Regions from separate parts of the Homo sapiens genome. Here region 2 is linked to region 1. Evidence: fine-mapped expression QTL. A gene starts in region 1. The other region holds a variant in brackets. All regions are shown on one strand. Distances are from middle to middle.

Region 1 (17,092 bases):
TTTTCTCCAGTGGCTACTCATTGGTCTATATTGTCTACAGATCACATGTGAGTTGATCCTTGAATAAGTGAAGAGGTAAGGACTTACTTTCCTGAATTGTGCAAGAGCAGCTCAGAGTGGAAAGAGAAACTTTACTTTGTCCAGCTAGCCACCAAACCCACATGGTCGTTGCCACACGTGACTCTGTGGTGACAGACTTTATTGAGTGAAAAATACATTATAAAAAACATAAGGATGATGCAGACAGATTGAAGTGGGTTTACATTTGCTTCGAGGGCCTTTTCTATTCCCTGGGCCTTTGTGTATTTGCAGTGAAGACCCAGGCTGAAGTTTACATGCTTTTAGTTTTGACTGTGTCCATTTTTTTTTATAATCTCATCTTCCTAAGAGGATTCTCCCAGATGTGTATTTGCTTGATTGATTGATTTCCTCTATAGTAATGAAGTAATGTGACCTTTATCTTAAGGAATACTAGCTGGTTAACTAACAAAAGTTTAGTTAGAATGGAACTGGTAAACGAAGTTAAATGATGCTGAGAATCTATGAAATGACGGAAGAAACTTCTGTGTTTAGTAAAAGGCAGACGCTTAGATATTTGTGAAAACATAACTCATCCCTTGCACTGTGGACACAATTCAACAAACATTTTTTGATGCTTCTATAGATCTGGCTCTATGCTAGGCACCAGTGAAACAGTGGTAAACACTGTTCTGCTCCTAATCTCAGGGGCCCACTATCTAGGCAAGAGAGAAAGACACTTTACCAACCAGAAAGCTGGATTTCAGCCAGACTAAGAAGGGCCATAAATGCTATGCTAACAATCCTGGTTTTACTAGTGAAGAACCATCAGAGAGATAACTTTTCTGCTGGGAAATGGGTGACGGATGTAGAAACTGGCATTTGCTTGTCGTGCGACAGTTGGCAAGTCAACCTCTCTGACTCTCACTTGCTTTTGTCTGAAAAAGGAAGATAAAAATAACTTCCTTACTTACCTCACAGGGCTATTATAAGGATCAAATGAAATCAAGATGTGTGAAAGAAATGTTATTCATAGTCAAGAACTATTATTAGGATTACTTAATAATATAGATGTCTGAGAGAACAAAGGAGTATTGGGTGTTGAGTAGTAATGCTCTGAGAATATGGCAAAAATCTTTCATCCAGAGTGGAGCATATGTAGGAGTGAAACCAGTCTTGGTTAAAAAAATCTGAACAATGGAATATATTGAAAAAACATTTTCTTTCTTTTAAAGTAAACTTTGTTGTAAATAAAGAAAATGAACAAGAATGCCCTTAGGTTACAGACAAGAATGTACATCTGGTTGAAAAGAAAAAGGACGGAGCAGACTGGGAAGAAGCTGCTGCAGAGGCAGGATAAAGGCCAGCAGTGACTTCTAAAGAGAGCTAGAGACACAGCCAGGGCACAGAAGGCCAGGGCATGAATTCAAAAGCACTAAAGTCTCCACAGATGCTGGTCTAGCTCTGACCAGCCTTTCAGGAAACACTCCATAGTCTTTCTTGAATCATCTTCTTCCAGGAAGTACTTGGCCCTGAGGGAGCTCACTCTTCAAAAAATAAGTTATGACTCTTGGCAGCATTTTTACTTTTCTTATCTTTTATGATTTCCTGAAAGTGTGGCTCCCACTGGGAAGAGGTCTGTGTCCAGAAGGCCTCAGGGCTTATCTGGATTTTCTATGAATTTTAAAGCCTCACATGCCAATGCAGTGTATATTAAAAGCCAAGATATCTCTTAGGAGAATAAGGTAAGTTAATGTAATAAAATGTACATCACAGTTGGTCTATTACCAGGTGGTAAAATTCCATTACTTCAGCCAAAATTTCAGAATTCATCCTAATGTGAAAAGCATATACAGTAGATATTCAGTATGGAAAAAGTTCTGACTTTAGATTTTTTTCCCTTCATTTATACTATTTTGAAAAGTACCAAAGAAGAGACTGATGTCAGCAAGATGGTGGAATAAGATTTTTCAGCACTCATCCTTTTGCAGAAACATCAATTTAAACAAATATCTATGCAAAAAAAAATGCCTTCACAAGAGCTAAGAATACCAGCTGAGAGATTATAGCACCTGGGTACAGCATAGAAATGAGAAAAGATGCATTGAAGAGGGTAGGAAGAATAGTTTTACATTATCTGTGTTACCACTTCCCCAACCCTAGGCAGCACAGTGGAGAGAGATATCCTTCACTTGGATATCTCTCCAAGATCTCCAAGGAGATATCCAGGGACAGGGAATTGAGCACTAAACTTTGCCTTGGACCCAACACTGGGTCCACTAGAGTAAAACCCAGAGCCAGGCAGGTGTCCGTGGGCCCAGACTCCAATCCACTTGGGGATTAAACCTCCAAGCCCACTCTGGTGCCAAGTGTGACCCCACAGCTTCAGGTTCCACCCTAGCACCCTAAGCCAGCCCCTGCACATTCAGGTTCAAAACTTATCCCAGCACCAGGTCAATGCCTACAGACCCAGACATCAAGCATCAGTGGAAATAGGCTCCAGGCTTGCCCTCACCAACTCAGGCTCCAGGCCTACTGCCCTTGGATTCAATCAATAGGTCTACCCCAGTGGATCCTGACCCCAGGCCCACTCACCTGCTGACCTAGGCATCAGGCCAGTCTTCCTGAAGGCTCCAGCAGAAAGCCCACTCTCAGATTATACCAGACAACCTGCCCCAAATCTCTGGACGGGCTGACTGGTGAAAAACTTTCCCAGACAAAGCCAGTTTGCAAATACTGGAATAAGTCACTACTTCTTTAAATGCTCAGATATCAACAGAAGGCAGAAAGAAACATGAAAAAGCAAGTTGATAGAACACCACCAAAAGAATAATCTCCCAGTAGCTGACCCCAAGGAAATAGAGATATAAAAACTGCTTGACAAGGATTTCAAAATAATTGTTTTAAGGAAGTTCAGCCAACTTCAAGAAAATATAAAGAAATTCAAAGAAATCAGGAAACACAATGCACAACCAAAATGGGAAATTTAACAGTGATATTGAAATTATTTAAAAAGACAGAAATTATAGAGCTGAAAAATACAATGAATGAAATAAAAATGCAATAGATAGCATCAAAAGCAATACTGATTAAGCAGAAGAAAGAATCTGTGAACTAGAAGACAGGTTATTTGAAAACATACAGCCAAAGGAGAAAAAAAATGATAAAAAGGAATTTTAAAAAAGCTTATGGGTCTTATGGGACAACCTCAAAAGTACAAATTTTGAGTCATAAAAGCTCAAGATGGAGAAGAGAGAGACAATGGAGGTATAAAGCTTATTTAAAGAAATAATAGCAGAAAACTTTACAAATATGGGGAAAGATATAAATACACAGGTAAAGAGGGTCAAATGTCTCCAATAAGGTTCAATTAAACAAAACTATACCAAGACACATTATAATCCAACCATTAAAAACCAAAGAGAGGATCCTGAAAGTAGCAAGAAAAAAGAAGCAAATAACATATCAGAGAGTTCCAATGAAATTAGCAATAGATTTATCAGCAGAGACTTACAGGCCAGGGATAGTGGGATGATATATTCAGGATGCTGAAGAAAAAACTCTGCCAACCAAAATTATTGTACCTCAAAAGCTGAAATGAAGGAGAAATGAAGGAGCGATGAAGAAGGAGAGATAAAGACTTTCCCAGACAAAAACTGGAAAGAATGTTTACATCGCTAAGCTTGTCTTACAAGAAATGCTAAAGGAAGTTCTTCAAGCTGAAAGAAAAGAACACTAATTAGTAATACAAAAACATATGAAAGTGTAAAACTCAGTGGTAAAAGTAAATACACAGTCAAATTCAGAACACTCTAATTCTGTAATGGTGGTGTGTAAATTGCTTATATATTTAGTATGAAGGTTAAGAGAAAAAACTATTAAAAATAATGACTACAATAATTTGTTAAGAGATACACAATATAAAAAGATGTAAATTGCAGCTTCAAAAACAAAATGTGAGGGAGAATGGAGCAAAAGTTTAGGGTTTTTTATGCAATGAAAGTTAGGTTGTTATCAGCTTTAAATAGCCTGTTATAACTGTAAGAGGTTTTATGTAAGCTTCGTGGTAACCATAAGGGAAAAACCTACAGTAGATACACATAAGATAAAAAGTAAGCAATCACAGCATAACACTAGAGAAAATCACTTAATCACAAAGTAAGAAAACAAAATAGGCCAAAAGCAACAAAAGATCTATAAAACAACCAGAAAACAATAAAATGGCAGTAGTAAGTCCTTACCTATTAATAATTACCTTAAAAGTAAATAGATTAAATTTTTTAATCAAAGGACATAGAGTGGCTGAATGGAAAAATAAATAAATAAAACAAGACCCAACTATAAGCTGCATACAAGAGACTCATCTCACATTTAGGACACACATAGACTGCAAGCGAAGGGATGGGAAAAAATATCCATGAAAATGAAAACCAAAAAAGAGCAGGTTGGCTATACATATATCAGATAAAATAAACTTTAAGTCAAAAACTGTACAATGAGGCAAAAAATTATTATATAGTGAAAAGGGGCTCAATTTCTCAAGAGAATATGACAATTGTAAATATATATGCACCCAACATTGAGACACCTAAATATAGGTCTAATCCCAGCACTTTGGGAGGCCAAGGTGGGCAGATCACCTGAGGTCAGGAGTTCATGACCAACCTGGCCAACATGGTGAAACCCCGTCTCTACTAAAAATACAAAAATTACCTGGGGCTAAATGGGAGTGCTTCAATGGTGGGTCTGTGAGCAAAGATTGTGAACTTGTTCAAGACAAATGAGAAAAAGAGAGTACTTCTTCCTAGGAAAAATTTCATCAGCCTCTCCATGCCTTTGTTATAAACAGACAGAGGCCCCATTTAACTGGTCTAGAGAATTTTGGAACCAAACATGAGGGTGGCACATGCCTGTAATCCCAGCTACTCGGGGGGCTGAGGCAGGAGAATTACTTGAACCAGGGAGTTGGAGGTTGCAGTGAGCTGAGATCACGCCACTACATTCTAGCCTGGGCGATAGAGCTAGGCTTGTCAAATAATACAGAATTTCAGTCAGATAGAAGGAATAAATTCAAGAGATCTGTTGTGCAACATGGTCACTGTAACTTAATAACGATGTATATTTTGAAAATCTCTACGACAATTTAAGTGTATTCACCAGAAGAAATGATAAATATGTGAGGTAACATGTATGTTATTCAGCTCAATGGAGCTATTTAACAATGTATACATATTTAAAAACATCATATTATACATGATAAATGTGTATGATTTTAATGTTAATTAAAGAAATAAAGTCACAGAGAAAGAAAATGGTGGCAAATACTTTGCTAAATAATAAGTAATCATACTAATTCAAGTTTTTGTCAAATGTCAGTATTTGGGGTTTCAACTAGTTATTACAGAGCTGAAAATTCTGCATGACAACACAAACCCTTATTGAAAATTTATTTCACTTTTATCTTTCAATGCTCCATAGTAATAGAGAGGAATTTCACCTCTAGTTAAGAGAGGGGTTGAAGATTTGCTGAGTGGGGAGAAGCACACCAACATTAGTTTCTCCTGTGGACAACAGATTTAATCTATGTTTTATTTCATTCAGCTAAGAGTTGGTCCTTACCAAGCAATTATGGCCACCTCCGTTTTGTAAATGAGAATACTGATGCCAAGAGAGAGATTTTTGCCAAAGGCGGCACACAGAAGTGGTGGAGCTAACATTCAAGCCAGCCTATGGAACTCCAAAGCCTGAGCTCTTTCCTCAGCCCGTCCCTTTAGCTTTTCCTGGAGCATTGGCTGGGGAATGCCTAGGAGGAAGGGGAGGGCTTGTTAAATTGGGTAGATTAGTGCATGGAGGAAAAGCCTCTCAATCAAAGAGGTGTGAGGGTTTGGAAGAATTGACTAATTACAAAACATGCCCTAGGCTCAGTCTCTCTCTCTCCCCAGCTCCTTCCTTCTTTCTTTCAGGGCAGAATTTCTCCAGCTTGGCTCTATTGACATTCATTGTTGTTCATTTTATTGGGGTGGGACTGTCTTGTGGTTTGTAGGATGTTTAGTGGCATTACTGGCCTCCATCCATTAAATGCCAGTAGCATCCCTCCCCAGTTGTGACAATAAAATATATCCCCAGACATTGCCAAGTGGCTTCTGGGGTAGGGAATCTCTCAGATTTAACAACCGGTTTTGGTTTCGGTTTTGTTTTTGAGATGGAGTCTCACTCTGTCGCCCAGGCTGGAGTGCAGTGGCATGATTTCAGCTCACTGCAACCTCCGCCTCCTAGGTTCAAGTGATTCTCCTGCCTCAGTCTCCAGAGTAGCTGGGATTACAGGTGGCCCACTGCTCCCAGATAATTTCTGTATTTTTAGTAGAGATGAGGTTTTACCATGTTGGCCAGGCTGGTCATGAATTCCTGACCTCAGGTGATCCACCCACCTTGGCCTCCGAAAGTGCTGGGATTATAGGTGTGAGCCTCCATGCCCAGCCAACAACCAGTTTTATAGTGACCAACCATCCCAGTTTGCCCTGGACTGAAGGATTTACTAGGATCTCTGAGGCATTTGTCAGGGATTCAAGGCTAAAACTAGGATAGTCCAGGGCAAACTGGGATATTTGGTCAACCAACAAGTAAAGTTTCATCTCCTGGTTAAATTAAGGCTGTGGTGAGAGGGGGCATTGTGTTGATTGTGTGGTTGTCCTGTCAGTCTTCAGTTTCTCTAAGCTGTTGCTATATCAAGTACATCTGCCTAATACTCCTTTCTTCCCCCTCAGGTAGCCTGCTAGGGTTGTAGGGGAGGTGTCTTACTTAAGGAAGGCTGGCTGAGCCACTGTATGGGTCATTACAGGACAGAAGAAGACCAGAGTGAATGCTGGTCTCTGTGTGTTTTTTTTTTTTTTTTTTTTTTTTTTTTTGCGTGTGTGTGTGTGTTGAACTAAAGAACTGGTAGGGGCAGTTGGGAGGGTGCTGGACTGCAGAGAGCCCTTTAGTGCTGCTCCAGTGGACGTGCACATCTGTGTTTCCACTGAGAGTTAATGGATATTGGATGGGGAAAGGTTTTCAGCTATGTGTTACTGTAGCCTATGACTATGTGGTATGAGCATTTTAATTTATTTGGTGTTTTGAAATACTTTTATGAGTTACTCTGACAACTTGTCAAGGATATTTTCCTGAGAGAAACAAATAAAAGACAAATCTCAAAAATAGTTTGCTATTAGGATTTTATTTGTTGAGATGTTGAAGATGTCTTTTCAACAGTGATACATGTTTTGGTTCTTTGCAAATTTACAAGGCACTCCCAAAATGTCATTTGTCCCTCATTCTTCTATTCTTGATATCATTCTATGATCCTGTACAGGATGAAAGCAACTGAGTTCTGAAGGTAGTAAGTAACATGCTGAGGTCAAATGCCAGGATTTGAGTCAGGTTCATGGGGCTCCATGTCCTGTGACCTCTCTGCTCCACCAGGCTGTGAAAGAATGACTCTTGCATTCATGCAGTCAGTCTGTGTTGCTGTAAACCTGAATGGTAAAATGACAAATGTAGACACAGAGGGTGTGAATCAGCTCTATTAGCAGTGACTCTGAGAATAGTCCTTTCCCTCCTCTGTCTTCCCCTTCTCTGTCTTGCAGCAAGTGGGAGGACGAAGCAGGTTTCATAAGAGCAGCGCCCAAGACCCACAGTCGCCTAGTGCCAAGTCAACAACCTTACTGATATCTGGATGTAGTTTCCTGTGCTCTTTGACACAGGTGTGGAGATTGTAATTTGCTGTGTGTGATTGTTTGCACTTCCTTGATTATGTAAACCAGTGGCTTTTGCCAAGAACTCTTCATGCCCTGAAGCTCTGAGCTGGTTCCCTCCCATTGGTGGACCTTATTTCATTTTATTGGGAGGCGTAACTTTCAGGTCACAGAGCAGTGATAACTACCTGCCAGTGTCTCTTAGGAGTGAGGTACCTGGAGTTCGGGGACCCCAACCTGTGACAATGACAGCAGACAAATTGGTTTTCTTTGTGAATGGCAGAAAGGTAAGTAGGAGCTGACCTTTGGTTTTGTGTCCCTTCTCCCTGGGAGGGGAAATGTGTCCTCTGGCAGAGCCATATCTTGTTCTCTGTCTTTCCTGTCCCCTCTTACTTGTTCTGTCTTTCTCTCTCTCGCTTTAAAGGTGTCGCTGCATTTTGGTAACATTAGGGAAGAAGACCTTCTCGGGGCTAGAGCACAGACAAGATACTCAGAGGCCAAAGAATGAGGGAGAGAGAGGCAAGCAGAGAGGCATCTGTGAGCTAGCTGCCAACTCTCTGCAGTAGTGGAGATTGGCACAGAATGAGAAAGGGGAGTTGAGTTCTAGGTGAGATTTGAGGTCATCACCACACTTCTATTTCTGTCTTTAATCAAATATATCCTAAAATTTACGTTGCTCTCTTTACAGAGAGAAGGAACAGGAATGTGTTTTCCTGCTTTTATCAGGATATAAGATGTACGCAGCCTTTGATTCTAATATATTATATATATAGGTTTAACAGCCAGTCCTGATTCACTGTGAGGTGACATATACTGACACCTTGTGGCAAACCACAATTTTTTTTTCATAAAGGGCATCTCCTGCATTCCCCCCACTCCCCACCCACACACAGTGAGTTCTACATGTAAGCTGCAAATCTGTTACCTACTTGAATTTACCTTATTGGTACACAGGGACTTAGGGAAGGTGACATGGGTACCAGCCCTTGGACAAGAGTGAGAATCTTTGCAAATTTTAATGTGGTGCAGAGAGAGAGGGGGCAAGCATATTACATGGTCACTAGCCTCCATTTGCCCTCCTACAACACTGCTGAGATGCTCATACCTGTTCAACTTCCCACTTAGGAATGAAAAGGATAGTAAAAGAGTCCCATAGTTGCACATTGTAACTTACTGTGTGGACTGTGCGTGATGAATGTGCCCAAAGTGTCCCCCAAAGAAGGGCAATTTTATTTGTCTTTCTATATTGGCATTTTTGCATTGAGTTGAGAAACTTTTGATGTAATTTTGAGTGACTTTTGGTATAATTTTCAAGAACAATAATGTGCTTCACTGGACTCCTAGGTCTTAAATTTCCAGGATGTGTTTGGGTGACTGTAAAAGAAATTTCATGAACTGTTTCAACGTCAGTGCTCCAAAGATTGATGGACTCTCTTTGAGTGGTGCCTTTGGGAAGTGCTGGGGAATGGGGACAGCCATGTTCTTCTGGGTTCAGAGTTTCCTCTCTGAGCTGCATCCTTTTCAGGGTTGGCACCTGGTACCAACCCAAGAAGTAGGGCAAAGCTTTCAAGTGTAAGATTTTGCATCCAGCATTTCAAACAACTTCTTTCCTTCAGCAATTACATTGTAGAAATCTAGGAAACCATTGTGCAATTGGCTTTCTAGGAGAGCTACTTACACAAAGCCATCTCTGGAATTTTTATTAGTAATTTTTACATTGGGTAAACAGCTAGATTCAATGACGTCCAAGGTCATGTCTTACTCTGAGGTTTTATTATTTATTAAACCAAACCATTGGTTAACCTGTAAAAGTATAAGTTTCTGCTCTTCTTCAGGGATGGCTTGCTGTTATGCACTAAATCTAGAAAGAAGAATTTCAAGGTAAATCTGGCTTGGGGAAAATTATTTTCCCTTGCATTTTACTTTCACTTTAGGAGAGTAATTTTAAATTTTTCGATGGTACCATCACATCAAATCCTATTATTTCTAGAAGCTTCTACTACTGCCAGTTTCTGTGATGAATATCCATGTTTGTAATTTATAATGATGTAGCATCTTCAGAAACTGCAAGAAAGGTAGAGGGGCAATGCAGAAAGTAATTATGTGAAAGCAATGCTGTAAAAACAAGACCAAGCAAGGGAATTCCTGGGTAAACAATGGCAGCTGTGAGAAAGTTGTCCTCATTTTTATTCAGAAGATATTCTAGACCTTTTGTTACAGGAATTGTGCAAAGTAGTTACCAAAGAAGCTGTAAGAACTTAGTGACTCTTTTTTTTTATTATTATACTTTAAGTTCTAGGGTACATGTGGACAACGTGCAGGCTTGTTACATATGTACACATGTGCCATGTTGGTTTGCTGCACCCATTAACTCGTCATTTACATTAGGTATATCTCCTAATGCTATCCCTCCCCTCTCCCCCCACCCCACGACAGGCCCCGGTGTGTGATGTTCCCCTTCCTGTGTCCAAGTGTTCTCATTGTTCAATTCCTACCTATGAGTGAGAACATGCAGTGTTTGGTTTTTAAATGTGAGCCTACTCCTCTCCTTGTTTTGTACCACTGTCCAGGACTCTGGCTTCACTAAATGGGGTCCTGCAGAAGGTGTTCGATGCAAGAAGTCGAATACCTCTAGGGCCTTCTGTGGTGGTGATGAGCCTTGATGACTATTGTTTTCATTCACATCTTCTTTTGTTCTAGAGTCAGAGTCAAAGGGAAAGAGCTGTCCAGTATTTTATTTTTATTGTAATGACAGCCTTTTTGCAAGGCAGCATTCTAGCTTTTCTGAGTAGTCACTCTGTCTAGCTGAGACTGTGGCACCTGGAAGAATCTGGGAGGATCTGGCAGGTTGGGTGCAGCCAAAGGTGTCCAGGAGTGATCCCCACAAGAAGTGAGTGTCAGCTACAGAGATCGTCACGGTGACTTTCACTCACTCACTCACTCACTCACTCACTTACTCATCATTCACTTGCTCACTCCCCATATAGTCAACATTTATCAAGCTCCTTCTGAGGCCTCAGACAACAGGATATGCACTGGGGGAATAAGATCTCCAAGATCAGGCATTTGCCATTCTGGAGCCCATATACTAGTTAGAGAGATGGATTATAATTAGACAAAGTAATACCTTCTGAAATGTATTTCACAGAAAACTAGCAGCATGAGATGCTCTTCTTGGATATTCTTAAACCACTTAGCACAGTGCATGGTATACAGTAGGTGTCCAACTAGTGTGGATGGAATAAGTGGATGAATTTTTAAAACTTTGAGAAATCCTGTAGTAAATAAATTACTTCTCTAACTTTGTATTTTACAATTATTTTATATTTAAAGAAAAACTGCAAGAAGAATACAAGGAAATACTAAATACCCTTTATGTACTTTACCAACTGTTAATGTTTTGCCACATTTGCTTTATTATTCTCTCTTTCTCACTCTGGACACACACACAGATACACATGTATGTATTATAAGTACGTAAATAATTCTATATATTAATGTACATAATTAATATAAATGAATATATAGTATAAGATAGATTTCTGAACCTTTTGACAGTAAGTTTCAGACATCATGTTCCTTTAGCTCTTATCCTAAGAATAAATATATTCTTTTTTTTTTTTTTTTTCCTGAGACAGGGTTTCACTGTGTCGCCCAGGCTGGAGTGCAGTGGCGCGATCTCGGCTCACTGCAACCTTGCCGCCTGGGTTCAAGCAATTGTCTGCCTCAGCCTCCTGAGTAGCTGGGATTACAGGCGCCCACCACCGTGCCTGGCTAAGTTTTTGTATTTTTAGTAGAGTTGGGGTTCTACCATCTTGGCCAGGCTGATGTTGAACTCCTGACCTGTGATCCACCCACCTCGGCCTCCCAAAGTGCTGGTATTACAGGCGTGAGCCACCGCGCCTGGCCAGAATAAATATATTCTTACAAAACTGTAGTCCATTTATAGAAATCAAGAAACTTAGCTTTGGTGTAATACTATAAACTTTATGCAAATGTATTCCAATTTTCCCAATACTGGCATTTATAACTCCCCAACCCCAGCCCGGAATCCAAGATTACGCCTTGCAGTTGGTTGCCATGTCTTTAGTCTCCTCTAATCTAGAACAGCTCCTCAGCTTTCCTTTCATGACATTGGTGTTTCTGAAAAGAACAGGCCAGTTTTTTTTTAGAATGTTCCTCACATTGAATTGTATTATGCTTTCTTGTAATTAGATTCAGAGTCTGCATTTGGGGGGCAGGAATACCACAGAAGTAATGTGTTTTTCTCACTGCATTCTGTCATTATGTTTGTTTTTTTAACGTCAGTTTTTGGGTCTTTTTTGTGATGCGAACTTTGGTGACTTGGCTAAGGTGTTATCCACCACGTTTCTTCACTGTAAGGTAACTTTTCTTTACCTTTATAATTAATAGAGGCTATGTGAGAAGATAATTTGGAATGATACAAATTCTTGTTCATCAAATTTTCACCCACTAATTTGAGTATCCATTGATATTCTTTTTTTAAATAATTTTTATTGTGGTAAAATACATAAAATTTACCATCTTAATCATTTTTATGTGTACAGTTCAGTGGTATTACATACATTCATAATATTGGGCAACCATCATCACCGTCCACCTCCATAACTTCTTTCATCTTTTAAGACAAACTCTATAAATTTACTAAATAATAACTCCCTATTCTACCTTTCTCCCAGTCCCTGGAAACCATCATTTTTTCTGTCTCTATGAATTTGACTAAACTACCTCACTTAAGGGGAATCATACAGTATGTCTTTTTGTGACTGGCTTATTTCATTTAGCATAATGTTCACCTATGTTGTAGCATATGTCAAAAATTCCTTCCTTTCTCAGGTTGAATAATATTCCATTGTATGGATGTATCACATTTTGCTTATCCATTCATCTATTGATGGACATTTTGGTTGCTTTCACAGTTTGGCTACTGTGAATAACGTTGTCATGAACTCAGGTGTATAAATATCTGAGACCCTGACTTCAATTATTTTGGGTATAAATCCAGAAGTGGAATTGCTGGATCATATGCTGGTTCTATTTTTACTTTTTTGTGGAACTGTCCTACTTATTTTTCCACAGTGGCTGTATCATTTTGCATTCCCATCAACAGTGGACAGGTGTTCCAGTTTCTCCACGTCCTTGCAAACAGTTATTTTCTGTTTATTTGTTTGTTCGTTGATCATAGCTATCCTAATGGGTATGAGGTGAAATCTCATTATAGTTCTGATTAGTGATGTTCAGCATCTTTTCATTTATTTGCTGGCCATTTGTAGATCTTTGGAGAAATGTCTATTCAAGTCCTTTGCCCATTTTTGAATTGGGTTTTATAGTTGTTGAGTTTTAGGAGTTCTGTATTACACTTGATCTCATAGTCACTGATGGCTCATTGCAACATTTACATAAAAACCAGAAGAAAAGAGAAGAAGGGGAGATGGAAAGACCTTTAATTTTTAATTTTTGGGGGTACATAGTAGATCTACATATTTATGGGGTACATGAGATACTTTGATATAGGCATGCAATGTGTAATAATTACATGATAGAAAATGTGGTATTCATCTCCTCAAGCATTTATCCTTTGTGTTACAAATGATCTAATTATACTTTTTTAGTTATTTTTAAATGTACAGTTAAATTATTATTGACTGTAGTTATTCTGTTGTGTTATCCAACACTAGGTCTTTTTCATTCTTTCTATTTTTTTGTACCTATTAGCCATCCCTACTTTCCTCTTACCCCCTACTACCCTTTCCAGCCTCTGATACCATCCTTCTACTCTATCTCCATGAGTTCAATTGTTTTGATTTTTAGCTCCCACAAATCAGTGAGAACATGTGAAGTTTGTCTTTCTGTACCTGACTTATTTCACTTAACGTAATGACCTCCAGCTCCATCCATCCATGTTGTTGCAAATGACAGGATCTCGTTCTTTTTTATGGCTAAATAGCACTCCAGTGTGTATGTGTACCACATTTTCTTTATCCATTCATCTGTTCACGGACGCTTAGGTTGCTTCCAAATGTTGGCTGTTGTGAATAATGCTGCAAAAAACATAGGAGTGCAGGTATCTGTTTTATATACTGACTTCCTTTCTTTTGTGTATATACCCAGCAGTGGGATTGCTGGATCATATGGTAGCTCCATTCTTAATTTTTGGGGGAAACTTCAAACTGTTCTCCATAGTGGCTGTACTAATTTCCATTGATGATTCTTAACTGGATCAATTGTGTTGATTACAAGATGGCCAATCATATTTATTAGATGACATTCTTCTGCCAGGAAGAGCTTTTCCATATCTTCCATTTGTTTGTTTGTTGACTCTATTTGGACTCATAGGTTTTAATTGTATTTAATGTATTATAGCCCATTATGGCTGTTATTTCTTTTGATGCTCAAGTTTTACCAGAGCAATCTGCTTAACCCAACATTTCCTTAACTCACTTCCCTACAAAATGTTTTTCCTTTGGGATACCCATTGGTATCCTGTTGAGAGTGTTCAATGGAGTGCACCATGGTAATCCTGCTGTCACACCTTGAGAGTGGCACAGTCATTCTCTATAGCAATCCACTTGTGGCTGGAGTGATAAGGAAAGCCTTTATGAAGAAATTGTTTGAAGTCTTCTGATAAGTCAAAATGCAGGTGGAAGAGGAATGGCATAGTCAAAGGCACAGGAATTAGAAGATATAAAATGTATTTTTAGTGCACTAAGATGACCAGCTTGGCAGGGAAGTAGAAGGGAGAAAGGCTGAAAATGAAGATTGGGAATATATTGAAAAGGGCCTTGAAAGACAGCCTAAGGAACTTGGATGTTACCTTGAATATGTGGGTGGTCATGAAAAGCACTGAGCAGGGAACTGATGTGATGTGATAAAAGCAGAACTGCAGTACGGGAGAAATGAACAATGTGGTGGTAAGCTAAGAGGCTCTTAATGTTGTCTACAAGAAAGGTGATAAAGATTGCTATTTTGTGCATTTATGATTACTTCTATGATTTGTAACCAGGATATTGAATAAGCTGGACTCATGGGGTGTAATCACATAAGAAAATTAATTTCATCTACTTTCCTTTAAACTTTATTCAAAGGACAAATTCTGGCAGTTTCATGAACTTTTTATTACTCTTAGTCAATAAAAAATCTTATGGTTATTTTTAAGTTGCCAAACAGTCTCAATTCAGGACGGCGGGGTGAGGATAGCAAGAAAGCTCTCCTTTAATTGGTACTATTGTAAGATGGCTTCCGGCTTTCTGAGCCTTTTAGGTGTTTGGAGCTGACCTTTCATTCTTCTTGTGATGGCTTTCAAGGATCTTCAAGGGCCACCACAGGGAATATTTGCATGCATGTCTCATGATATGAGTGATGCACTTTTCTCAGGCTGCTGTTCTCCATCAGCCTCCAGTTTGGGGAAGTCCACTCCACACAGTCTCTCTTTATTGAATGCTCTATCCTGTATTTTGGGAAATGATTTAAAGACCTCCAAGCCAGCTCTTTTTATCTCATGAATGGCTTGCATTACATCCATAGGCGACACTTCCACATCCTCTGCTCTACCAAGCTCCGGGAGTGTATACCAACCCCAGCACAGCCACCTCTCCAACTTAAGTTTAATGAGGAGTTTAAACTTGTCATTGTCGGTATTAATTTCTTGTTAAGCCTATCTCTTCCCCTATGCTGCAAAGGTGGCATGTTAGATTTTTATGTAGCACAAAGCAAGCTCCCTCACTAAGTTTGAGGTGGGAGGCAAATATTCCTCCCCTTCTCCTTTAGGAAGGTGTGGGTAGTATAGTTCCCTCCAACGAAAACCTTATCATGAATTCTTTCTCTTTATTATCCCAATAATATACACCCTTTTAAGCTTTGGTAATGTGTGAAGAGTACTGAAATCGGTTTTTGTAGATTTCCTTTGACAATTCACAGTGGGAACTGACATCGCACTTTCTAGACCACTTTTTCCACCTTATTGAACCTAGTGATGGATCTTTGGTTTGAGATTTCTCTTTCATTTCTGACATGTATTAGTGTTGACTAATACGCATCACATGCCAACACTCTGCTCTGAGCACAGGCCAACAGAATGGCCTTCCACAGTCACATGCAGGATCTGAGATTGTATACTCAAAGAGGCAAAGTCCGAGATCTGCATGCCATGCTCTCAGATGCCCCTGAAATTCACAGGTGTGATCTAGCAGTTGAAATGAGATGACAGGTTTTATTTGAAGGGGATTTGGCCTTGGTCGAGCCAGCGTGGAAGGTGCAATGCCTGCATGTTCTGTGGTGGGTCCCAAGGTGAGCATTGAGGTACAATTTTAGAATTTAAGGATTTGAGTATATACATTGTCTGGCTGTAGTTTATAGGTTCATTCTTATGGAGTTGCCATAAAAATACCTTAGTTTTCATGATCTATTTAGCACATTGTATTAGGCCATTCATGCATTGCTATAAAGAAACACCTGAGGCTGGGTAATTATAAGAAAAGAGATTTAGTTGGCTCACAGTTCTGCAGGCTGTACAAGCATGACACCAGCATGTGCTTGGCTTCTGGGGAGGCCTCCAGGAGTTTTTACTCATGGCAGAAGGCAAAGTGGGAGCAGGCACATCACATGGCCAGTAAGAGCAAGAGAGAGAGAGAAGGGGGTGATGCCACATACTTTTAAATATCTCGTGACAACTAATTCACAACTAAGGGGATGGCACTAAGCCATTCATGAGAAATCTGCCCCCATGATCATATTGCTTCCCACTAGGCCCCACCTTCAACACTGGGGATTACAATTAAACATGAGATTTAGAGGGGCAGAGTGCAAACTATATCACACTTCCTACTAACTCTACAAATTATTGAGTGAGACACTGAAGGAAGAAATTAATTGCAGAAAGATGACTAAGTATACCTATGATATATTTTTCTTTCATTTATTTTAATAGGTGGTGGAGAAAAATGCAGATCCAGAGACAACCCTTTTGGCCTACCTGAGAAGAAAGTGTATCCTGACTTTGGAGTGGGAGTGACGGAGAAGGGGGGCAATGGTGACTGATTCTGTAGGCCTTACATTGTTTCCTAGTGACTGGTGGGGTGGCCTTGAGGTGTGGAGGAAAGAGCACTGGATTAGGACTTGGGACACTTGCATTTTAGTTGCACCTGTAATCTGAAATTCTCAGCTACTGAATGAGAGGATTGTTTGTGGTGATCTTCGAGGTGTCTCCCCGCTAAGACTCTAGTAATGCCAAGGTTTAATCCAGGGCCTGTAGAAAGGTCCTCATTAGCCTTGGTGAGCTTCATGGTCATTCCTCTGTGGGAAGAGGGGGGCCTTCCTTAGGTGAC
Region 2 (17,092 bases), 92 kb before region 1:
TCCACTATAATTGTAAGTTTCCTGAGGCTTCCCAGGCATGCTTCCTGTTAAGCCTGTGGAACTGTGAGTCAATTAAACCTCTTTTCCTCATAAATTACCCAGTCTCAGGTAGTTCTTTATAGCAATGTGAGAACAGACTAATACAGAGGGGATTGCCCATGGATCTTAATTAAGGGAGTGGGCCAGATGCTTCTTATGCACATTAAACACTGAGGACAGTGTTGTTGGCTTATATCTTGTAAAAGCTAACTTTCTACCTCTTCTTGCAGTTTGATTCAAAGAAGTCTAAAAGAGTCCTATGACACAAATGTCTTCCTTTCTAGCCACCCGTGGGGTCAAAAGTTCCTACCCTGGCACTCTTTTTGGGAGACAGAGACTTTTACGTAAGTTAAAGCACCAGGTGACCTGAAATTGCTCTAAGTTAAATGCGTCTTGGCAGGGATTAAATGGTTTGGTTGATCCCTTGTCCCAGGGCAGAGAACAAGGTGAGGAAACAGAAGCAGGGGAGAAGGCTGCAGAGGGAAGGGGCTGAGTGGCACTTGGGGTGCCCTCTGGTAGTAGGGACTGCTTAGGTGCACAGATGGGAACATGAGCAAGTGGGATTGAGGTTTGAACTCTGGGCACCCCAGAGACTGGGGAGGCCAGGAAGGTAACAAGGAGTAAACTTCAGAGGAGAGATATTTAATTAACTGCAAAGAAGACAACACATCTGATTGTGAACTCCTCATCACTGGAGTGTTCCAGAGAGCCTGGAGGATGACTTGCTGGGGAAGCTCAGGTTGAACAGAGGCCTGAGTTTGGACTTGGGCTCTCTAAGGCTCCTTCTAGATTTATAACTCTAAGTGCCAGGCATTGAATGTATAATTCCTGGTTCACCAGTTTGCCTGGGCCAACCTGGCCTGTAGTTCATGTGGTTTATGGGAATCAATCCAGGTCTGTGTAGAATTTTCTGAGGCATTAATAATTCAGTTGCAGTAAGCTCCAAGGCAGAGCCAGTAACATCTGAATATGAGTCAGTAAAAAAATGCAGGACTCAAGAAGTTTAGTTCAAATCAAAGGAAAACTCTATCTCCTGGAGCACTAACTTCCAAATTCTGGGCCACAGCTATTCTAGGAGTCAAGTGTGGTGAACAATCACCTGGGCGACACAAGGAAGCATCTCTGGGGAGAGCTGGCTCTTTGTGGTAGGGGGATGGACAGTGCCTACAGAAGTGGGGTCAATGCTCAAACACTTTATTCACATTCAAGGGAGCAGGTGGGGGAAAACAGATGAAACTATAATGGCTGGTCAGAAACTCTAGAAGGGTCATATATCAGTGACTTCATTATGCAAATCACTTCATTAGGCAGGAAAAATTTTCTGTTTCATTTACTTTTAGGAGAAAGAAAAACATCATAAGAGAGAAAAATGATATTAGAAATTTCTTTAATCTATTTGATAAGAAGTTATTTATTTACAATAAACTGCATCTATTTCAAGTATACAATACAATGAGTTTGACACTTGTATACACCCATGTCACAACCACTACAATCAAGATACAGGATATTTCCTTAACTTTAAAAACTTCTTCATACCACAGTCCATTCTCCCCTTCACCCATGGTTGTAGACAACCACTGATTTTCTTTTCTTCAGTATATATGTGGAGTCTTCAAATAATTCACAGAAAATGCATATTATGGAAAACCTATAATGGATTTAAAATATTTTTTGTGCCAAAATAAACTTGTACCAGGTAGTTATAACATATCTGAACAGGATCTAGTTTGAGGCACTAAGAAAGATAAGAAAGACATGGGTTTGAAAGACCCCCTATCACAGCAACATGAATTCTCCTAAAATTGAAGCAAGAACGAACATCCACTTGATGCTGAAGCTTGGGTGGAAGAAGGGTGAAATCATTGATGCTTCACAAAATGTTTAAGGAGGCAATGCCCCAAAGAAATCCACAGTTACAAATGGGTAACTCATTTTAAGAAGGGACAAGATGATATTGAAGATGAAGCCTGCAGTAGCAGACCATCACATCAATTTGTCAGGGAAAAAAGAATCTTGTTCCACTCTAATAGAAGAGGACCGATGATTAACAGCATGAACAATAGCTAACACCATAGACATCTCAATTGGTTCAGCTTACATATTCTGACTGAAAGATGCCCACATAAGCTGGGGCCAAGAGCAGAGCTTTCAATGGACATTTTAAACAATGGGATCAAGATCCTGAAGCATTTCTTTGAAGAATTATAACAGGAGATAAAACATGGCTTTACCAATATGATCCTAAAGACAAAGGACAAGCAACATAATGGCAGCCAACAGGTGGAAATGGTCCAGTCAAAACAAAATTGGACCAGTCAAGAGCAAAGGTCATGGTAATGGTTTTTTGGGGGATGCTCAAGGTGTTTTGCTTGCTGACTTTCCGGAGGGTCAGATAATGGTAACATCTGCTCATTATGAAAATGTTTTGAGAAAGTTAGCCAAAGCTTTGGCAGAAGGACACCCAGGAAAGCTTCACCAGAGAGTCCTTCATCATGACAATGCTCTTGCTCATTCTTCTCATCCAACAAGGACAATTTTGCAAGAGTTTTGATGGGAAATTGTTAGGCTTACAGTCCTGATTTGGCTCCTGACTTCTTTTTGTTTCCTAATCTTAAAAAAGTCTGTAAAGGATACCCATTTTTCTTCAGCTAACAGTGTTAAAACAAAACAAAACACAGTATTGACATTGTTTAAATTCCCAGGACTTTCAGTTCTTTAGGGATGAACTAAATGTCTGATACCATCACAAAAAAATGTGTCATGACTTTGATGGAACTTATGTTGAGAAATAAAGTTCACATTTTCTATTTTATCTTTTCATTCAATTCTGTTCACAAACTTTTCAACTCCCTCTTGTATTAGTTTGCATTTTACCTAAATGGAATCTTAAGTATGCACTCTATTATATGTGGATTCCTTCACTCACTGTAAAAATTATAAGATTAATTCATGTAATTGATTGTATCAGTAGTTTATTCCCTGTTTTTCTAAGTAATACTGCATTAAGTATCTCAAAGTGTACCACATTTTATTTATTCTTTCACATGTTGACGGATACTTGAGTTGTTTCTAGTTTTTGACAATTATAAATAAAGCTTCTATGAATATTTGTGTATAGATTTTTAGCAAACATACATTTCATGGATAAATAAATAAATTTCTTGGGTAAACACATAGAAGTGAGATTGCTGGATTAGGTATGCATATGTTTCTAAGAAACTGCCAACCAGTTTTTCCAAAGTACCTGCATAATTTTCCATTTCAGTCAACAATGTATGAGAGTTCCAATTGTTCTGCATATTCACAAGCACTTGATATTGCCTTTTTCTTTAGCAACCCTAATAGGTATGTAGTAGTAATTTTTTGTCTTAAATTTGCATTTCCTTAATGTGTAATGATGTTGGGCATCTTCTCGTATGCTTATTTGCCATCCATATTTCCTCATTAGTGAAGTGTCTAGATCTTTCCTCATTTAAAAAAATTGTGTCGTTTTCTTATTGCTGAGATTTTTTGTTTGTTTGTTTTGACAGGGTCTCAGGTTGGAGTGCAGTGGCACAATCATGGATTACTGCAACCTCAATCTCCTGGGCTCAAGAAATCCTCTCACCTCAGCCTCTTGAGTAGCTGGGACTACAGGTGTTCACCACCACACCTGGCTAATTTTAACCATTTTTGTAGAGACAAGGGTCTCACTATGTTGCCCAGCCTGGTCTTAAACTGGGCTCAAGAGATCCTCCCATCTCAACCTCCCAAACTGCTGAGATTAAGGGCCTGAGCCACTGAGCTGAATCTACTGTTGAGTTTTGAGAGCTATTTACATATTTTGAATACAAGTGTTCAGTCAAATGTATCTATTGAAAATATTTTCTACCAGCCTGTGCCTTGTCTTTTCATTCGTGTAAGAGTGTTTTTAACAGGTAAAAAATTTTAATTTAAATGGAGTCTAATTTATTAATTTATTTCTTTTATGGATCATACGTCTGGTGTTATAGCTAAATAACTCTTTGCTTAACTCAAGGTTATAAAGATTTTCTTATTTGTTTTCTTTTAGATGCTTTATAGATACACTTTTTAATTTTATTCTATGGCGCATTTTGAGTTAATGTTTGTGTAACATGTAAGATACAGATTGAGGTTAACTTTCTGTTCTTGTATTTTTCCTGATGACTACCCAATTGCTTCAACATCATTTGTTGAAAAGAGGAACTCTTCTGTATTGGTTTGCTTTTGCACATTTGCCAAAAATCTGTTGACTATATTTGTAGAATCTATTTCTGCATTTTTTATTTTATATGACTGATCTGTATGTGTATATTTTTTACGAATACCACAATATATTGATAACTTTAAACTTACGAGTTTTGATATTAAGTAGTGTGGGTGGTCCAACTTTTTCTTTTTCAAAACTGTTCTGGCTGTATTAATTCCTTTGTCTTTCCATGTAAGTTTTAGATTTAGCTCCTTATTATCTATGAAATAGATCTTTGAGATTTTGATTTGTATTGCATTGTAACTATTGCTCAATCTGGGGAGAATTGGCATCTTATCAAGATTAAATCTTCCATTCCATGAACATCATATGTCTCTCCATTTATTTAGATCTTGTTTTCTTTTATCAATGTGTTGTAGTTTTCTGCATACAAATTCTATACATATTTTGTAGGATTGACACCTAACTAGTTCATTTTTTGTATGTTATTGTAATTGGGACTGTTTTGTAAATTTTGAACTCTATATTTTTGGAATTCTGTGCTAGCCTATAGAAATGCAATTGATCTTTGTACCTTGATTGTGTATCCTGCAACCCTGACAAACTCACTTATTAGTTCTATGAACCTTTTGAAAATTGATTTTTGGAATGTTTTAGAGGAAAAATAATGTTTCAGAGGGAGTTTTATTTATTTTCAATCATCTTTTAAAAAAAATCTTGTTACATTGGCTGGAGTTTTTGTAAAATATTGAATAGGAGTGGTGATAGGGGGCATCATTACCTTGTTTCTAAGGTTAGGAGAAAAGCACTTAGCTTTTCAACGTTAATAGCTATAGTTGTTGTTTGTTGTATGTTGTGTGTATGTGTGTGTGTGTGTGTGTGATATGCCATCTATCAGTATGGAAGTCTCCTTATTTTTTTAGATTCCTGAAAGTTTTTTTTTTTTATGATAAACAGATGTTGAATTTTACCAAATATTTTTGTGTATCTATTGACATAATCATATGGTTTTTCTTCTTTAGTCTGTTAATATTGTGACTTACATTGATTGATTTTGGAATATTGAACCAAACCTTGTATAAACCCCTATTGGTTATGATATATTATTATATGTAGTTATTGCTGGATTTGATTTCTTAATTTTTTTTGAGAATTTTTGCATTTATGTTCATGAGGGATATTGGTCTATAGTTTTGTTTTCTAGTAATGTCTTTGTCTAGTTTGAGTATTAAGGTAATGCTGGCCACATAAAATTAGTTAAGAAGTTGTCTCTCTCCTGTTTTCTTAAAGAGATGGTATACAATTAATATTATTTCTTCCTTAAATGTTTTGTAGAATTCACCAGTGAAACAATCTAGGCCTGTAGTTTTCTTTTTTGGAAGGTTTTTAATTGCAAATCCAATTTAAAATAAATATAGTATTATCTGAGTTATTTATTTCTTCTTCAGTGAGTTCTGGTAGTTTATATCTTTCAAGACATTGAAATAATTATGTAAATTATCAAATTTTTGGACATAGAATTGTCTGTTATATCCTCCTATTTTTCTTTTGATGTCTGTGTTTTCTTTTTTTCTCCCTTGGTCAATCTTGCTACAGGGTCATCAATTTTATTGATCTCTTCTAAGACCAGCTTTTTGTTTCATTGATTTTTCTCTGTTGTTTTTCTGTTTCCATCTCGGCAATGATTTTTTGGACTTGGCAAAATGAAAAGACAACTGACATAATGGAAGAAAATAATTACAAGCTATTTATCTAATAAGGAGTTAATATCCAAAATATATAAGGAACTCATATAACTCAATAGCAAAAGAACAAATAACCCCATTAAATAATGGACAAAGGACTTAAACATTTTTCCAAAGAAGACATAAAAGTGGCCAAAAAATATCTGAAAAGATACTGAACACCACTAATCACCAGAAAATTGCAAATCAAAAGTACAATGAGATATCACATTTTGTTGATTTTTTTTGTCTAGTTGTTCTATCAATTCCTGAGAGAAGGGTGTTAAATTTTCCTACTATAATTTTTTTATTGTTTATTTTGCCTTAGTTGTATCAATTTTCACTTCTTGTATTTTGAAGCTCTATTATTATGTGTATACACATTTTTGATTATTAAATCTTACCAATTACTTGAGCTAAAAAGGCCCCAATAGATAATGTTATCATTATGAAGGGCTCTCTTTATCTTTGATAATACTGTAATTTTTACTCTTTATCTGATAGTCTGTTTTATCTGATTTTAATATATCAATTTTAATCTTCTTAAGCTATTTACATGGTATTTCTTTTTTCTTCTATTTACTGTCCATCTTTATATTTAGTCTATGTCTTCATATTTAAAACATGTTTCTTGTAGACAACATAAATTTAATCTTGCCTTTAAAATAATCCATTCTGATAATCTTTGGCATGCTTAGTACATTAGCATTTAATGAAATTACTGACATGATTGGATTTAGTCCTACCAATTTATTATTTATTTGGTTGTTCTCTTTGCCCATTTTTCTTTTGCTATTCTCTTTCTGCCTTCTTTTGCATTATATATGTATTTTACCATTCAATTTTAATGTTCTGTATTAGATTTTTAGCAATATTTCTTGGTGTAATCTTTCTAGTTGATGTACTATGGTTAGCCTTTCATAGGGTAAGTTAACTTAGAGTTAGTAATTTAAAGTTAGTCTTATACCACTTTATTTAAAATATATAATCCTTGCAATTATTTAGGTCTATTCATTTATGCCTCTACCATTCTCTATATTATGGTTACTATATGTATTAGATATATATACATTGTAAATTCTATAAGGCAATGCTAAAAGTTTGTCTCTAAACAGTCGTCTGTATTATAAATAAATTGAGAGAAGAAATAGTCTTTTATAAATATCGTTATGTTTATTCTTTTCTGAATTTTCCTGTGGTATCATTTCCCTTCAGCCTACAAAACTCAGTATAACATTTCTTGTGGTACAAGTCTGGTGGCAATGAATACCCTTAGTTTTTCATTATTTGAAAATATCTTTATATCAGCTTCATTCTTAAAAGACATTTTTGCAGAACATGAAATTCTTAGTTAATAGGTTTGTTTTTTCTACTAATGCTTTAAAGATATTATTTTACTGTATGCTTCCTTTGTTTCTGATGAGAAGCCATGATTATTCAAATAGTGTTGAATATAGTGGGTCATTTTCTTGGGGTGATGTCATAATTTTCTCTCTATCTTTGGTTTTCAGCTGTTTGACCACGATGTGCCTAAGTATGATTCTTTCAAATTTATCCTGTTTGAGATTCATGGAATTGGTTTAATCTGTAAATTTAAGTCATTAACCAGATTTCGGAAATTTTTGGCTATGATTTCTTGAAATATGTTTACTGTCCTATTATTTTTCTCCTTTCCTTTATTGACTACATTTCCACATATGCTAGATCTTTTGAAGTTGTTCCATAGATCAGTGAGGCTCTGTTCACTTTTTTCCTGTTGTTCAGATTCTTCTTATTGATTCGTCTTCTAGTTATTACCTTCAGAGGAAAGCCACATGAAGTGAAAACTCATTGTGTTCCATGGTGTTCCTTGCTGTAGCTTTAGCTCTCCTCCAAAAACTGCTTGCTTTTGTTCAGTCTCCAGAGTCTCGTGTAGATGTTTTTGTATTTTGTCCAGATCTTATAACTCCTGTTGGCAGCAAGGTCAGTTTTTTAGATGCTCATTTCCCATACAGTGAAGGGTATTGTTTTTTACCTTGAAGTCAGCACAGATTTAACACAATTCCTTACAATTTATGCAATCATATTTATAGACAGTTCTCAATTAATTTGTAATTATAGTTACCTAAGGTTTGTAAAAAATAATTAAAGGTTAAAAGCTATTCATTATACCACACTTATTTATACAAGAAAAGAACTGATACTCTCACAACATTTTTCATTTATTTATTCCTAGTTAACTAGAAAGATCTTGCTGACTCTCAATGCCTTGGTTTCTTTATCAGTCAAAAAATAGTAAAATATATTAGCTTGTCCTGAAAAATATTCTAAAGATTTTGCCTGCAAAAATGTGTGGTTAAATGCATTTGGGATATGTAGTACTAAAGAGTTGAATAGAACTTTTTGCAGTACTTTTCAAAGCCCCTAATATACTAATATGTGTTTTGAGTTTCCAAAAAGAGGACAAAGTTAGTATTACTTAGTTTTCCTTTTTTCTCAGGCTTTAATATGGCTTAGCATGCCACTGTTACTGATGCTGTCTTTCTTTAAAATCTTGATATTTTATTAATTATGGATTTTCTACATGAATCTTATCTTTTAAATGCTGCATTAAAATATTGTTTATCTTGATTACTGAGTTTTATGGTGCCCCCTTAAATTTTGCACTGCAGGCAAGTACTTTGTTTACCTCAGGTGCCTCACTTGACCCTGCACTGTCAGCAACTAAATGGATAGACTTATTAATACAGTGTTGCATTTCTTAACACATTAAATCAAACAAACTCATCAGCTTACAAGACCCTCCATGGTTTGGCTCTTATCTTATGAACCTTGCCTCACTCTTTCTCTACTTCCTTCTTGTCACGTGAATGTTTTGCACTCACTCCTCCCTCCCAAGCTTTTGTTCCTTTTCCAGCCAAAGCAAGAATGTCTCCCTCTCTCCATTTCTTCTCAGCTAATCCAAATCCTTTTTAAGAATGCTGCTTAAGCCTCAGTCCCTCCTTTAAAGCTTCCCTGATCTCTGGAGGAAGGCCACAGACTCTCTCCATTTGCTGATTTGTTGTTAATGTGTTCACCAACAATCACACACAACTTGGTCCTGAATTATGCGCTACCTAGCATGATTTCTTGATCTTCTCATGGGTGCATGTCTTGTCCCCTCTGTGGTCCAGGGCCCATGTCTCACACTTAAGAATCCTTTAACACAAAGCATTGTGTGGAGCCACACAGGGCTAAGTAAATACTGTTAATTTGATAGGTTGCTCCAGAATTCCTTGAACTCACTCTTGTTCTCTTGATCTTTGCTGTTCTGTTTTTCTTACCCTTAAATTAGGGCGGGATCCATAATCTCAGGTTCAGTTGAATTTGGGCTAAACTTATGCTCATCAGC[C/T]TTGAACTCAACTCTAAATTCTAGGTATAAACATAGGGTGAATTCCTGAAGGATCTGCAAATTTATGGACACTTTCCTGCTAACCACATGTAGATCTAATACCTGTGGTAGACTAGGCCCCAGTATGCCTCCCACAGGTATAAACAGCAGAGCTGTTCCCTTCTAGAAATGTAGGACTGAACAAGACTATACCCAATGGGGTAGTGAGTGGGGTTATGTGTGTTCTTGTAACATGTTTTCTCTCTTCTATAAGGTGAGTTGTTTTACCTTCTCCTTCACCAAGAGCCTAAAATCATGCCGGGCTTCCTGCCCCAACTTTATCTGTGTACCAAGTTAATTGCCTGTCTTATCTGCTCAGAATACTGCAACCAGGAGGGACGGATGTTCAAAGGGCACTTCATGGCTTACTGAAGGTTTTCTCCAGCATATATCTGAAGCTTATGTGGAGACAAAAGGAGAGCAAAGGATCTAATAAAGGGAAATCTGACATAACCCTCTAAGGCTTCTTTCTACTGAGTTGGTCTTCAATACCAGAAATTGAATCCATATTTTGTGCAAAGAAAATTATAATCAGTTGGACAACTGATTCTCCAAGTCTTTCTTTTGATCATAACCATTTATCAATGGATGCCTCATTCTGATGTAGCCTGAAATAAAGAGTACAGTCTAATGCTGGTTTGCTAGTTGATCCTCTTCAGAAGTGTCAGTTTAGGACTTTTTGAATGGGCAAGAGACTGCCGAATCCAGTGCCTTCTGGCATAGACAAGGAAAAAAAGTGCTTGGGAAGAGAGCTGGACAACTCTAAGGGGCTTGGGGCACGGCTTTTTTGTCTTCATGGTGTTTGTATTGTAATAATGAACACGAGACTAGGGAATGAGAATCAATTTATAGGTCAGCTATTTGTTCGACTGTGATGATCTTTTGCCAGCTCCCAGGATCCCTGAAGGTTAGTCACTTTGACCATCACAGGTAACTATGCAGAGAAAAACTCCAGGCAAACACATTGTATGTACTATTCCAGTTTTTCTCTCAAATACTTGGTGAGCTGGGCTGATCGCTCAGCTTCAGACAGGGCTAATTCTGACATCAAAAGCAGGTAGAGGAGATTTTTTGATCCCCTTGCCTTGGGCGACTCCCTATCTTCTGCCTCCCAGGTGAGGAAAGGTGAAGAGAGATAAAATCAAGGAAGAGTACCTCAAAGTCTAAGCAATGAAGGGATTTTCTTGTTGATATCTGACTCAGAGGTCACCTAAGTCCATTTGTATGTGCTTTATTATCATGGTATCCAAACCTTTCCAGCTGGTTGGGGGATAGGAAATGGGGTTTCCAAACAAGACGAAACTCCAGGATGACCTTATAAGCCATACAAAAAAATGGACTCACAAGACAATGAATACCAAAACCCAAGAAGGATGGTAGAAAAGGAGGGCTTGTATTCAAAGCTGCTAAACATGTGACCAGTTATACACTGCCAAAGCAGATTCACACAGGTATAGAATTATATACAGAGTCATCCATGGGCTTGTGTGTATAAGTAATTCATTATTGTTTTAATGATGCATATTATTTCATGGTCTGGAACACCACAATTTATTTATCTTCTTTTATTTGTTGAACATTTGAGTTGTTTTCCATTTTTGACTACTGTGAGAAAAAGCAGCTATGAACATTTTTGGAAAAGTCTTTTTGTAAATATATATGCATTTCTCTTAGATATATACTTCTAGATAAGAAGGAAGGCATGCGTTTATCTTTACTAGAAATCACCAATGAGTTTTCCAATGTGAATGCACCATTTTACACTCTCATCAGCAGTGTATGAGAATGTTGCTCCACATTCTCGACATTTGTATTGTCAGTCTTTTTAATATTAACCATTCCAGTGGGTGAGAAAAGGTATCTCATTGTAGTTTTTAAAAATAAGCTTATGAAGGTATAATTTACACATAATAAAATACACTAGTTTTAAGTGTACAGTTTGATGAGTTTTGAAAATGTATGTACCTATGGAACCACCACAACAACCCAGATGATATGGTTTGGCTGTGTCCCCACCCAAATCTCACCTTGAATGGAAGCTCCCACAATTCCCCCGTGTCATGGGAGGGACTTGGTGGGTGGGAGGTAATTGAATCATGGGGGCAGGTCTTTCCTGTGCTGTTCTCATGATAGTGAATAAGTCTCACGAGGTCTGATGGTTTTATAAAGGGGAGTTTCCCTGCACAAGCTCTGTTATTCTCTCTTGTCTGCAACCATGTAAGACATGCCTTTCACCTTGTGTCATGATTGTTAGGCCTCCCCAGCCACGTGGAACTGTGAATCCATTAAGCCTCTTTTTCCTTGTAAATTACCCAGTCTCAGGTATGTCTTTTTTTTTTTAACTTTTGATTAAAAAATTCTTTTTTTTTTTAAATTATTATTATTATACTTTAAGTTTTAGGGTACATGTGCACAACAGGCAGGTTAGTTACATATGTATACATGTGCCATGCTGGTGTGCTGCACCCATTAACTCGTCATTTAGCATTAGGTATATTTCGTAATGCTCCCCCTCCCCGCTCCCCCCACCCCACAACAGGCCCCAGAGTGTGATGTTCCCCTTCCTGTGTCCATGTGTTCTCATTGTTCAATTCCCATCTATGAGTGAGAACATGTGGTGTTTGGTTTTTTGTTCTTGCGATAGTTTACTGAGAATGATGATTTCCAATTTCATCCATGTCCCTACAAAGGACATGAACCCATCCTTTTTTATGGCTGCATAGTATTCCATGGTGTATATGTGCCACATTTTCTTAATCCAATCTATCATTGTTGGACATTTGGGTTGGTTCCAAGTCTTTGCTATTGTGAATAGTGCCACAATAAACATACGTGTGCATGTGTCTTTATAGCAGCACGATTTATAGTCCTTTGGTTATATACCCAGTAATGGGATGGCTGGGTCAAATGGTATTTCTAGTTCTAGATCCCTGAGGAATCGCCGCACTGACTTCCACAATGGTTGAACTAGTTCACAGCCCCACCAACAGTGTAAAAGTGTTCTTATTTCTCCACATCCTCTCCAGCACCTGTTGTTTCCTGACTTTTTAATGATTGCCATTCTAACTGGCGTGAGATGGTATCTCATTGTGGTTTTGATTTGCATTTCTCTGATGGCCAGTGATGATGAGCATTTTTTCACGTGTCTTTTGGCTGCATAAATGTCTTCTTTTGAGAAGCATCTGTTCATATGCTTTGCCCACTTTTTGATGGGGTTGTTTGATTTTTTCTTGTAAATTTGTTTGAGTTCATTGTAGATTCTGGATATTAGCCCTTTGTCAGATGAGTAGGTTGTGAAAATTTTCTCCCATTCTGTAGGTTGCCTGTCCACTCTGATGGTAGTTTCTTTTGCTGTGCAGAAGCTCTTTAGTTTAATTAGATCCCATTTGTCAATTTTGGCTTTTGTTGCCATTGCTTTTGGTGTTTTAGACATGAAGTCCTTGCCCATGCCTATGTCCTGAATGGTAATGCCTAGGCTTTCTTCTAGGGTTTTTATGGTTTTAGGCCTAATGTTTAAGTCTTTAATCCATCTTGAATTAATTTTTGTGTAAGGTGTAAGGAAGGGATCCAGTTTCAGCTTTCTACATATGGCTAGCCAGTTTTCCCAGCACCATTTATTAAATAGGGGATCCTTTCCCCATTGCTTGTTTTTGTCAGGTTTGTCAAAGATCAGATAGTTGTAGATATGTGGCATTATTTCTGAGGGCTCTGTTCTGTTGCATTGATCTATATTTCTGTTTTGGTACCAGTACCATGCTGTTTTGGTTACTGTAGCCTTGCAGTATAGTTTGAAGTCAGGTAGCGTGATGCCTCCAGCTTTGTTCTTTGGGCTTAGGATTGACTTGATGATGCGGGCTCTTTTTTGGTTCCATATGAACTTTAAAGTAGTTTTTTCCAATTCTGTGAAGAAAGGCATTGGTAGCTTGATGGGGATGGCATTGAATCTATACATTACCTTGGGCAGTATGGCCATTTTCACGATATTGATTCTTCCTACCCATGAGCATGGAATGTTCTTCCATTTGTTTGTATCCTCTTTTATTTCATTGAGCAGTGGTTTGTAGTTCTCCTTGAAGAGGTCCTTCACGTCCCTTGTAAGTTGGATTCCTAGGTATTTTATTCTCTTTGAAGCAATTGTGAATGGGAGTTCACTCATGATTTGGCTCTCTGTTTGTCTGTTATTGGTGTATAAGAATGCTTGTGATTTTTGTACATTGATTTTGTATCCTGAGACTTTGCTGAAGTTGCTTATCAGCTTAAGGGGATTTTGGGCTGAGACAATGGGGTTTTCTAGATATACAATCATGTCATCTGCAAACAGGGACAATTTGACTTCCTCTTTTCCTAATTGAATACCCTTTATTTCCTTCTCCTGCCTGATTGCCCTGGCCAGAACTTCCAACACTATGTTGAATAGGAGTGGTGAGAGAGGGCATCCCTGTCTTGTGCCAGTTTTCAAAGGGAATGCTTCCAGTTTTTGCCCATTCAGTATGATATTGGCTGTGGGTTTGTCATAGATAGCTCTTATTATTTTGAGATACGTCCCATCAATACCTAATTTATTGAGAGTTTTTAGCATGAAGGGTTGTTGAATTTTGTCAAAGGCCTTTTCTGCATCTATTGAGATAATCATGTGGTTTTTGTCTTTGGTTCTGTTTATATGCTGGATTACATTTATTGATATGCATATATTGAATCAGCCTTGCATCCCAGGGATGAAGCCCACTTGATCGTGGTGGATAAGCTTTTTGATGTGCTGCTGGATTTGGTTTGCTAGTATTTTATTGAGGATTTTTGCATCAATGTTCATCAAGGATATTGGTCTAAAATTCTCTTTTTTTGTTGTGTCTCTGCCCGGCTTTGGTATCAGGATGATGCTGGCCTCATAAAATGAGTTAGGGAGGATTCCCTCTTTTTCTATTCATTGGAATAGTTTCAGAAGGAATGGTACCAGTTCCTCCTTGTACCTCTGGTAGAATTCGGCTGTGAATCCATCTAGTCCTGAACTCTTTTTGGTTGGTAAGCTGTTGATTATTGGCACAATTTCAGCTCCTGTTATTGGTCTATTCAGAGATTCAACTTCTTTCTGGTTTAGTCTTGGGAGAGTGTATGTGTCGAGGAATTTATCCATTTCTTCTAGATTTTCTAGTTTATTTGCGGAGAGGTGTTTGTAGTATTCTCTGATGGTAGTTTGTATTTCTGTGGGATCGGTGGTGATATCCCCTTTATCATTTTTTATTGCGTTTATTTGATTCTTCTCTCTTTTCTTCTTTATTAGTCTTGCTAGCGGTCTATCAGTTTTGTTGATCCTTTCAAAAAACAGCTCCTGGATTCATTGATTTTTTGAAGAGTTTTTTGTGTCTCTATCTCCTTCAGTTCTGCTCTGATTTTAGTTATTTCTTGCCTTCTGCTAGCTTTTGAATGTGTTTGCTCTTGCTTTTCTAGTTCTTTTAATTGTGATGTTAGGGTGTCAATTTTGGATCTTTCCTGCTTTCTCTTGTGGGCATTTAGTGCTATAAATTTCCCTCTACACACTGCTTTGCATGTGTCCCAGAGATGCTGGTATGTTGTGTCTTTGTTCTCGTTGGTTTCAAAGAACATCTTTATTTCTGCCTTCATTTCGTTATGTACCCAGTAGTCATTCAGGAGCAGGTTGTTCAGTTTCCATGTAGTTGAGTGGTTTTGAGTGAGTTTCTTAATCCTGAGTTCTAGTTTGATTGCACTGTGGTCTGAGAGATAGTTTGTTATAATTTCTGTTCTTTTACATTTGCTGAGGAGAGCTTTACTTCCAACTATGTGGTCAATTTTGGAATAGGTGTGGTGCTGAAAAAAATGTATATTCTGTTGATTTGGGGGGAGAGTTCTGTAGATGTCTATTAGGTCCGCTTAGTGCAGAGCTGAGTTCAATTCCTGGGTATCCTTGTTAACTTTCTGTCTCGTCAATCTGTCTAATGTTGACAGTGGGGTGTTAAAGTCTGCCATTATTATTGTGTGGGAGTCTAAGTCTCTTTGTAGGTCACTCAGGACTTGCTTTATGAATCTGGGTGCTCCTGTATTGGGTGCATATATATTTAGGATAGTTAGCTCTTCTTGCTGAATTGATCCCTTTACCATTATGTAATGGCCTTCTTTGTCTCTTTTGATCTTTGTTGGTTTAAAGTCTGTTTTGTCAGAGACTAGGATTGCAACCCCTGCCTTTTTTTGTTTTCCATTTGCTTGGTAGATCTTCCTCCATCCTTTCATTTTGAGCCTGTGTGTGTCTCTGCATGTGAGATTGGTTTCCTGAATATAGCACACTGATGGGTCTTGAGTCCTTATCCAATTTGCCAGTCTGTGTCTTTTAATTGGGGCATTTAGCACATTTACATTTAAAGTTAATATTGTTATGTTTGAATTTGATCCTGTCATGATGATGTTAGCTGGTTATTTTGCTCGTTAGTTGATGCAGTTTCTTCTTAGTCTCGATGGTCTTTACATTTTGGCATGATTTTGCAGCGGCTGGTACCGGTTGTTCCTTTCCATGTTTAGTGCTTCCTTCAGGAGCTCTTTTAGGGCAGGCCTGGTGGTGACAAAATCTCTCAGCATTTGCTTGTCTGTAAAGTATTTTATTTCTCCTTCACTTATGAAGCTTAGTTTGGCTGGATATGAAATTCTGGGTTGAAAATTCTTTTCTTTAAGAATGTTGAATATTGGTCCCCACTCTCTTCTGGCTTGTAGAGTTTCTGCCAAGAGATCTGCTGTTATTCTGATGGGCTTCCCTTTGTGGGTAAGCCGACCTTTCTCTCTGGCTGCCCTCAACATTTTTTCCTTCATTTCAACTTTGGTGAATCTGACAATTATGTGTCTTGGAGTTGCTCTTCTCGAGGAGTATCTTTGTGGCATTCTCTGTATTTCCTGAATCTGAATGTTGGCCTGCCTTGCTAGGTTGGGGAAGTTCTCCTGGATAACATCCTGCAGAGTGTTTTCCAACTTGGTTCCATTCTCCCTGTCACTTTCAGGTACATCAATCGGAGGTAGATTTGGTCTTTTCACATAGTCCCATATTTCTTGGAGGCTTTGTTCATTTCTTTTTATTCTTTTTTCTCTAAACTTCCCTTCTTGCTTCATTTCATTCATTTCATCTTCCATTACTGATACCCTTTCTTCCAGTTGATCGCATCGGCTCCTGAGGCTTCTGCATTCTTCATGTAGTTCTCGAGCCTTGGCTTTCAGCTCCATCAGCTCCTTTAAGCACTTCTCTATATTGGTTATTCTAGTTATACATTTGTCTAAATTTTTTTCCAAGTTTTCAACTTCTTGGCCTTTGGTTTCAATTTCCTCCTGTAGCTTGGAGTAGTTTGATCGTCTGAAACCTTCTTCTCTCAACTCGTCAAAGTCATTCTCCGTCCAGCTTTGTTCCATTGCTGGTGAGGAACTGCGTTCCTTTGGAGGAGGAGAGGTGCTCTGCTTTTTAGAGTTTCCAGTTTTTCTGCTCTGTTTTTTCCTCATTTTTGTGGTTTTATCTACTTTTGGTCTTTGATGATGGTGATGTACAGATGGGTTTTTGGTGTGGATGTCCTTTCTGTTTGTTAGTTTTCCTTCTAACAGACAGGACCCTCAGCTGCAGGTCTGTTGGAGTTTGCTAGAGGTCCACTCCAGGCCCTGTTTGCCTGGGTATCAGCAGCGTGTCTGCAGAACAGTGGATTTTCGTGAACTGCGAATGCTGCT

Alleles and levels. Alleles are on the strand shown, and positions count from the first base shown. SD is a standard deviation of normalised expression in the study named.
With allele T in place of C in region 2, the expression in unexposed skin of the gene that starts at base 7,918 in region 1 is lower (small effect, 0.28 SD a copy in GTEx).

Evidence for each region. PIP is the estimated chance that this variant, and not a neighbour inherited with it, causes the effect. A credible set is the group of variants that fine-mapping cannot tell apart.
Region 2: its variant is the best candidate, but not a certain one, in a credible set for the expression of XDH in unexposed skin (GTEx, PIP 0.72).

The regions. Positions count from the first base shown.
Region 1 is chr2:31,405,568-31,422,659 of GRCh38, reverse strand. XDH (xanthine dehydrogenase) reads left to right here and starts at 7,918. Exons shown (of 36, transcript NM_000379.4): 1 at 7,918-8,035; 2 at 16,696-16,753. The coding sequence starts at 7,994. RefSeq lists an enhancer at 6,130-6,179.
Region 2 is chr2:31,497,118-31,514,209 of GRCh38, reverse strand. No RefSeq gene overlaps it. Among named protein-coding and RNA genes, the nearest start is that of SRD5A2, 75 kb to the left of the region's middle. RefSeq lists an enhancer at 16,896-17,092. The variant C/T (reference allele first, on the strand shown) is at 9,347.